2 linked regions of the Homo sapiens genome follow. The protein of the gene in region 2 purifies or fractionates together with the protein of the main gene of each other region. This does not show direct contact. Each region holds a gene or a part of one and is shown on either strand. Other genes may lie near its edges.

What was found. Proteins that work in one complex are often made in the same cells at the same time.
Region 1: the proteins of TPPP (region 2) and MAN2C1 purify together in Homo sapiens (affinity purification with mass spectrometry; one large-scale study listed by BioGRID and IntAct). This does not show direct contact.

What each region holds. Positions count from the first base shown.
Region 1 is NC_000015.10:75,362,095-75,365,742, reverse strand, and holds part of MAN2C1 (alpha-mannosidase 2C1), read left to right. Parts: intron 1-1,077; coding exon 1,078-1,255; intron 1,256-1,554; coding exon 1,555-1,744; intron 1,745-2,994; coding exon 2,995-3,101; intron 3,102-3,289; coding exon 3,290-3,400; intron 3,401-3,648. UniProt on the Homo sapiens protein: Cleaves alpha 1,2-, alpha 1,3-, and alpha 1,6-linked mannose residues on cytoplasmic free oligosaccharides generated by N-glycoprotein degradation pathways.
Region 2 is NC_000005.10:676,346-679,993, forward strand, and holds part of TPPP (tubulin polymerization-promoting protein), read right to left. Parts: intron 3,598-3,648; exon of another isoform or gene 3,164-3,597; coding exon of another isoform or gene 2,967-3,163; intron 1,720-2,966; coding exon of another isoform or gene 1,716-1,719; coding exon 1,405-1,715; intron 272-1,404; exon of another isoform or gene 1-271.

The DNA.
Region 1 (3,648 bases), on a different chromosome or scaffold from region 2:
TTTTTTGGATTTTTTTGAGACGGAGTTTCGCTTTTGTTACCCAGGCTGGAGTGCAATGGCACGATCTCGGCTCACTGCGACCGCCGCCTCCCAGGTTCAAGCAATTCTCCTGCCTCAGCCTCCCTACTAGCTGAGATTACAGGTGCCCACCACCATGCCCAGCTAATTTTTTGTATTTTTAGTAGAGACGGGGTTTGACTCTGTTGGCCAGGCTGGTCTCAAACTGCTGACCTCAGGCTATCCACTTGCCTGAGTCTCCCAAAGTGCTGGGATTACAGGAATGAGCCACCGTGCCCGGCTCATCCCGGTATAGTTTTTACTAGTTAAGATTGTATCCTGACTTCTTACATTCCATGTTATAACATGGACATTTTATGACACCATTAAAAACACTTCTTAGACATTATGAATGTATTTTATATAGATTGACACTGTTTCAGATGCTTTCAGACACTGGGAGTATGGTGGTGAATAAAATAGCCCTTGCCAACAAAGGGAGACAGATTCACTCATATAATTACAAAACTGAGGGCTCTGGAAGGAAATCCTGGGTACTCCACTGAGGAATTTGCTCTAGACTTAGCAGCGAAGTGGAGTCAGGAAGGCCTCCCTAAGGAAGTCGTGTTTGCTCTCTGAAGCCTAAGTATGGCATCACCACAGCCCAGCCTGTTCTCCAATGAATGGCCCGCCCATGTTGGCCGTGTTGGTTTTAGATCTTGGGTCTAAAAGTTTGAGCCTGGGAGATCCGAACATGATTTTAATATGCAAAGAGGGTTCCAAGACCAAGGCAGTGCTTTGCAAAGACAACTTTGGAAATATAAGACTAAACAGCAGCGTACTTTACATGGTTCCAAACTTTGCTACTTATTCTCTCTGACAGCAAGACATGGGATCCATCTGGTGTTTGTACCACAACCCTCCCACATGCACTCTTGTCACACTGTGGGATCCTCTGGGTAGTGGATCCTGGAAGCAGACAGGTTGGGCTCAGCTGGATGCCTCCTGGGTGCCCCTTCCCCAAGTCCCCGGAGTACTGTGCCAGTCCCTTAGCCTGAGGCTGTCTCCCCATCTTTGTAGCCTCACTCTCTATGTGGAAGTAGCCTGCAATGGGCTCCTGGGGGCCGGGAAGGGAAGCATGATTGCAGCCCCTGACCCTGAGAAGATGTTCCAGCTGAGCCGGGCTGAGCTAGCTGTGTTCCACCGGGATGTCCACATGCTCCTGGTGGATCTGGAGCTGCTGCTGGGCATAGCCAAGGTACTTGACACCCCCTGTACCCCCTGCTACCCTCTAGAGCCCTGCTCCAAGAAGGTTGTTCTTTGGGTCAGATAAATGGGACTCTGGGAATCCAGAGTAGGACGAGGGTTTCCACCTGCTTGAGGGTTGAGAGAATTTTCCTATGTGAAGGGGAGGAGGGAGACGGTGCTGAGCAGGGGGACCAGCAGGGAAAAAGGGTTGGGGGTCAGGGGAGCTCTGCTGAGAGCCCTGAGATCAGTGGAGCCTAGGTCTGGAAGCTGTGCTTGAAAAAGGGATTAAGGGGCAGAACCCTGCTGCAGGGCCTCGGGAAGGACAACCAGCGCAGCTTCCAGGCCCTGTACACAGCCAATCAGATGGTGAACGTGTGTGACCCTGCCCAGCCCGAGACCTTCCCAGTGGCCCAGGCCCTGGCCTCCAGGTTCTTTGGCCAACATGGGGGTGAAAGCCAACACACCATTCATGCCACAGGGCACTGCCACATTGATACAGGTAGGACAGCAGCTGGTTGGGCTGGCTGGGGAAGCAGGAGTGCCCTTGAAGACCTGGATGTGCCCTAGAAGCACTGTGTGATGCTCAGCAAGTTCTTGCTCCTCTTGGACCTGCGTTTTCCCCGTCTGTAAAACGGGGCCGGGGGGCTGGACTGTGGGCTCTGCTTGCTTTGGATTCACTTTTTTTTTTTTTGAGACGGAGTCTCACTCTTGTCACCCAGGGTGGAGTGCAATGGTGTGATCTCGGCTCACTGCAACCTCTGCCTCCCGGGTTCAGGCGATTCTCTTGCCTCAGCCTCCTTAGTAGCTGGGATTACAGGCACCCACCACAATGCCTGGTTAATTTTTGTATTTTTAGTAGAGACGGGGTTTCACCACGTTGGCCAGGCTGGTCTCAAACTCCTGACCTCAGGTGATCCGCCTGCCTTGGCCTCCCAAAGTGCTGGGATTACAGGCATGACCCACCGTGCCCAGCCTCATTTATTCTTTCAACAAAATCTGATGCCTCATGGGGCCCATGCTAGATATTGAGGGTAGGATTACAGAGACAGATTCAGCAGGCAGAGTTGGTGTCACAATGGTGGGGAGTCTGAGGCACTGGAGAGCACAGGAGAGGTACTTACTCCAGCTGGGTTGGGGGATTCCAGAGAGGCTTCCTGGACAAGTTTGCAGTGTCTGAGTTTTACGGGAAATCCACATTTTTAACAAGCTCCTGAAGGTATTGATTCTGATGCAGCCGAAGTTTTGGGATCACAGAACAAGGGCTTTCTCTGCTGTGCCAAGATGTAGGGTAAGGTGTGAGAGGTTCTGGGCTGGTAAGGGAGGAACTGCAGCCTGGGAGTCAGGAGAGGCTGTAGCACCTCTGGTAGGACAGCTGGCTCCATCCTGGGAGCCATGCCTCTGTTCCCAGGTATACATCAAGTTTGTGCAGGGGCAGGGTAGTCCCTGCTACTTCTCGTAGGATCCTCTAGGGGATGTCTAATTCCCCAAGAGGACTGAGGCTATTCTGGGGCCTGGAGCCTCCATTTCCTGACCTGTATAATTGGCCTCATAGCACTGCCGCCTCCTTTCCCCAGCCCCTCCTCCCACCTCGCTGGAGTGAAGTGAAGTGACCACTTAGGAGGGACACCACAGGGCTTTCCAGGGTGAAGGGCCTGGGATGGGAGGGGGGCTAGGTGACCCTCTGGAGTCCCAGCCCAGGCCTGGTCAGCCTTGCTGCTCCCTCTGTCCTCCACCTCACTCCCCGTATAGCCTGGCTTTGGCCCTTCAAAGAGACTGTGAGGAAATGTGCCCGGAGCTGGGTGACCGCCCTGCAGCTCATGGAGCGGAACCCTGAGTTCATCTTTGCCTGCTCCCAGGTCAGAGGGACAGCTGTGAGGGAGGAGGGAAGCACGTGGCCCTCCCTGGAGCTCCACAGGCCCTGAAGGCTTCCCAGGCCTGGGGTCAGGGCTGCTCCTCACCCTCAGCCACACACTGAGTCCCATATGCTCAGTCCTGGGTGGGGCCCTTGTCACTCTGGTCCCAGCTCCCTTCAACCTGCCCACAGGCGCAGCAGCTGGAATGGGTGAAGAGCCGCTACCCTGGCCTGTACTCCCGCATCCAGGAGTTTGCGTGCCGTGGGCAGTTTGTGCCTGTGGGGGGCACCTGGGTGGAGATGGTAAGTGCACTGGGCACTCCTCAGCCTTGAACTGTATGACAACAGCCTTCCCTCAGGTAGCCCCGCCCTCCCGGCTTTGCTGGTGAGTTTCCACGGGCCACTCATCCCCGCTGTGTGGCAGGGCTGGCTCATTAGTCCCTGGGATCTCAAGGCCTGGGACTTCAAGGGGGAGGAGAGCCTCCAGCGCTGTGACAAGTTGCATGGCCTAGTCCTGGGCACCCCCTCAGGCAGATGGACAGTCAGGCCTG
Region 2 (3,648 bases):
ACGGAACAGCTGCAAAGGTCACGGCGCCCACCCAGAGCTGGTAGATGGGGCGCTGGCGCCGCAGAGGTGGGCCCCACAGCCTTCCACACAGGGGCATCTGACCCACGGCCCGGCCCCTTGCAAAGCCAAGGCCGCAGAGGGGGAAGGTGCAGGAGCTCTGAGATGAAAGAGGTGATGAGTTTGCGGCAATGTAGGAATGAAATACATCGGCCACAGGAGGACGCAGGTGCAAACCACCGAAATAAAGCCATTGCCACACAGGCGGACAGGACGGGGCTCAGGGAGAACCGCTGCTTTTCTCGGGTGCGATCATGGTGGGGTGTCGGGACATGAGGTGAAATGTGCTGGGGCGTGTGAGGGTGCCTCAGTGTGCTTCCCAGCATTCATCCAGGAGAAAACAGACAATGCGTGACACGGCAACAGACGTGTGCACACATGACACAGAAACGCACGTGCACATGCAGAAACACATGCACACATGCGCACACGTGCACACACGACACAGAAACGCGCACACACGACGCAGAAACATGCACACACGACGCAGAAACGCGCACGCGCGCATACACGACGCAGAAACGCACGCGCGCACACGACGCAGAAACGCGCACACGTGCACACAGAAACGCACACACGACGCAGAAACGCGCACACGTGCACACGCAGAAACGCGCACACGTGCACACACGACGCGGAAACGCACACACGTGCACACAGAAACGCGCACACGTGCACACGACGCAGAAAAAGCAAACGGCACGATGCGGTTTCAAGGTGGTGGCCGGAGCCGCCTCCTTGGTGCCCTTTGCCATTTTGCCGCCCGTGGGAATCCTGGGGCAGAAATACAGCAGCACAAAGGCTTTGGGAGGGGCTGGGGGACACCCGAATGGCCAGCTCCATGCATGGGGACACAAGCATCCAACCTCTGAGACTCAGCCGCTGAGCCAGCCCACAGAGGGTCAGGAGCTCTGCCCGCCAGCAGCCACCTGCCCCTCCAGGCTCCAGGCAGCCACTGCCCCCACTCCTGGGGAAGCCCAGTGATCCCAGTCACAGCTCCCTGACTCCGGGGAGCAGCATTCACCCCGAGTCTGCTCTGAGGCCAGACATCCCCTCATAGGCCACCTCCCATGCCGAAACCCTACACACCCACGGGGCTGAGAGGAGCCAGGGCTGCCACTCAGGCCTCGGCACCGAGAAGTCCGGCAATGCCCGGACCCCTGCTCCCTGGGGGCCCAGATGGCACGTTCAGGCTCCCATGTCAGGGCTGCTTCTGAGAAGGGCGGGGTCTTGAAGCACAACCCCCTCCACTCCCCATGGCCCGCTCCCCACAGAACCCACCCAGGGGCTCAGGGCCGCAGACCCCCGTAAGTCAGGTCCCTCGGCCCGTGAGCCCAGCGCACTCACTTGATCTTGCTGAAGACGATGTCCACGTCAGTGACGGTCACGTTCCTGCCGTCGATCACCTGGCAGTCCTTGCACAGCTTCGACCAGTTCTTGCCGTGCATCTCCCTCCCGGTGGCCCTGGCGTCCCCGTGCACGGCAAAGCGCCGGAAGGCCTCCTCCAGGGCACTGAGCTCAGGGGATGCGGCTGCCCCCTCACCAGCACCCTCCGATTCCAGCGACAGCCTCTTGGCTGCCCGGTCCTTCGAGGGGTCCCCCGGGGACTTGGGGGGCGTCCTGTTGGCAGCTTTGGCAGGCTTGGCCTTGTCAGCCATGTTGCTATGGAGGAAGGAGAGGAGAAAGGTGTCACCCGGGCCATGTCCCAGCTGAGCCGGGTGCAGCCCAGGAAACCCCGCCGTACCAATGAGCACCAGGACGTGGCGAGGGCTGAGATGGGCAGGCCCTCCTGGGGCTGGGCGTGAGGCCCCTCAGACCCTTGGAGCCAGCTGCCCCGCAGGCACGCATGTCCAGCCCCGGGCAGAGTGGAGCCAAGCGAGGCCTTGCCCACTGCCATCATTGGGCCAAGGACCCCCTAAGCCAAATAAAGCCAGCAGCACGCAGAGCCCAGGGTGGGAGCTGAGCTGGGTGCCAGGGGCTCCAGGCCTAGGAGGCTCAGTGTGTGACTGGCAGCATCAGAGCCTATTCCGGGTCCCCTCCCCGCCGCAGTTCCACTGTCCCTCCTGTGGACGCCCGCTCTGCAGCTCTGGAGGACACCTCGGGATCACGCACTCCCCAGGGTCTGTGACGTGCTGCCTTCCTCTGGGAGGGTCCACAGCAGTCGTGCGACAGCCGCTCCCTCCCCACTGCAGAGCCTCTGACCTTAGATGGAGCTTTAGGCTGGGGAGGGTGCGTGGTGGCCCTGGGGGCGCCTCAGGATGCTCTTCCCAGGAGCCCTGGGCCTGGCCCCGGCCAGGGGAGGGGACTGCCAGTGTGCAGGGCTGAGGCAGTGGTGGGGGCACCGGTGTCAGGGCGCAGGGACGCCCTCTGGACTTTGCAAGGCGCCCGCCCCCAGAGTAGGCGGCTGGGCCATGGGGTTGAGAAGACTGAGGGGTGCCACCCAGGCAGGGCTTGGGGACGCAGGGCTACGCCACAGGGCAGGGCTGCCGAGGCCACCTCCCTACCATGCATGGGCTTCGGTAAGACCCAGTCAGGCCCTGAAGGACTCAAGGCTGAGGTGCTGGACTCAGGGCATGAAAGCTGCTTCCCAAAGGGGCCTGGACACCAGGTGGGCCGTCAGCACTGCACTGAGAGCTGAACATGGCCTCTGCCCACAGACACAAGAGCCGGTGGGAGGGTCCGTGCCGAGGACACAGGTAGGTGTCCCAACCCTGGGACTCACGAAGCCCTCTCAGATCTGGAGTTCTCAGCGCCAGTCATGGCCAAAGTGTGGCTCTGTAATCGTGGGGTCCTGAGTGTGGCCGCTGCTGACCCTGAGATCCCACAAATTCCCCCAAAACAGCCAGAAAAAAATCCAGGGGCACTCCCTCCACTGAGGACCTTAAGGGCCTCAGGCCCCACCCACTCACCCCTTTCCCTGGAAGGCACCAAAAATGCAGATGCCAACCCAGCGGAGGATGCAGGGGCAGGATCCTGGTGGGGGCTGGGCCGCGTGGGGGCAGGATCCTGGGGGTGGAAGGGCCGCCTGGGGGCAGGATCCTGGGGGTGGAAGGGCCAGGTCAGGTGTCGAGCTGGGAACAGTTTCCAGTTTTATCGCTGACACCATTTCTTTGTCTGAAACAGGAGCTTCTCACAGGCCTGGTCTGTGTTTCCCCTGGGCCTCTGCAGCAGGGGTCGCTGGACAGGAGGAGCAGCTGAGAAATTACCAGAAGCAATGGTGGGTTTTGTGAGCACCCAGAACAGTGGTGGGTGTGCGGGTCAGAGAGAAAGAACCTTCTGGGATGCTTCAAACTCAGGGCTGCGTTCTGTGGTCTCATCTCCTGTGGGGACGCGCCTGAACAGAGACCCTTATTCACACACCTCAGAGAGTCATCTGAGAACCTGCACCCCGTGGGGCCCGCCTGGGAGCAAAGGGATGAGGGAAGCCCCTCAGAGCCACCTTCAGGGCTCACGCAGGACTTCCCAGCCCATCAGCACGTGCTTTGCATGAGGTTTTGATAAGCTTGGAGGTTGGCCTTGGAGGGCTGAGCGGGACATAAAACGTCCTGCCCTCATGAGGCCTTCAGTTGGGACAAGTGATAAACAAATAAG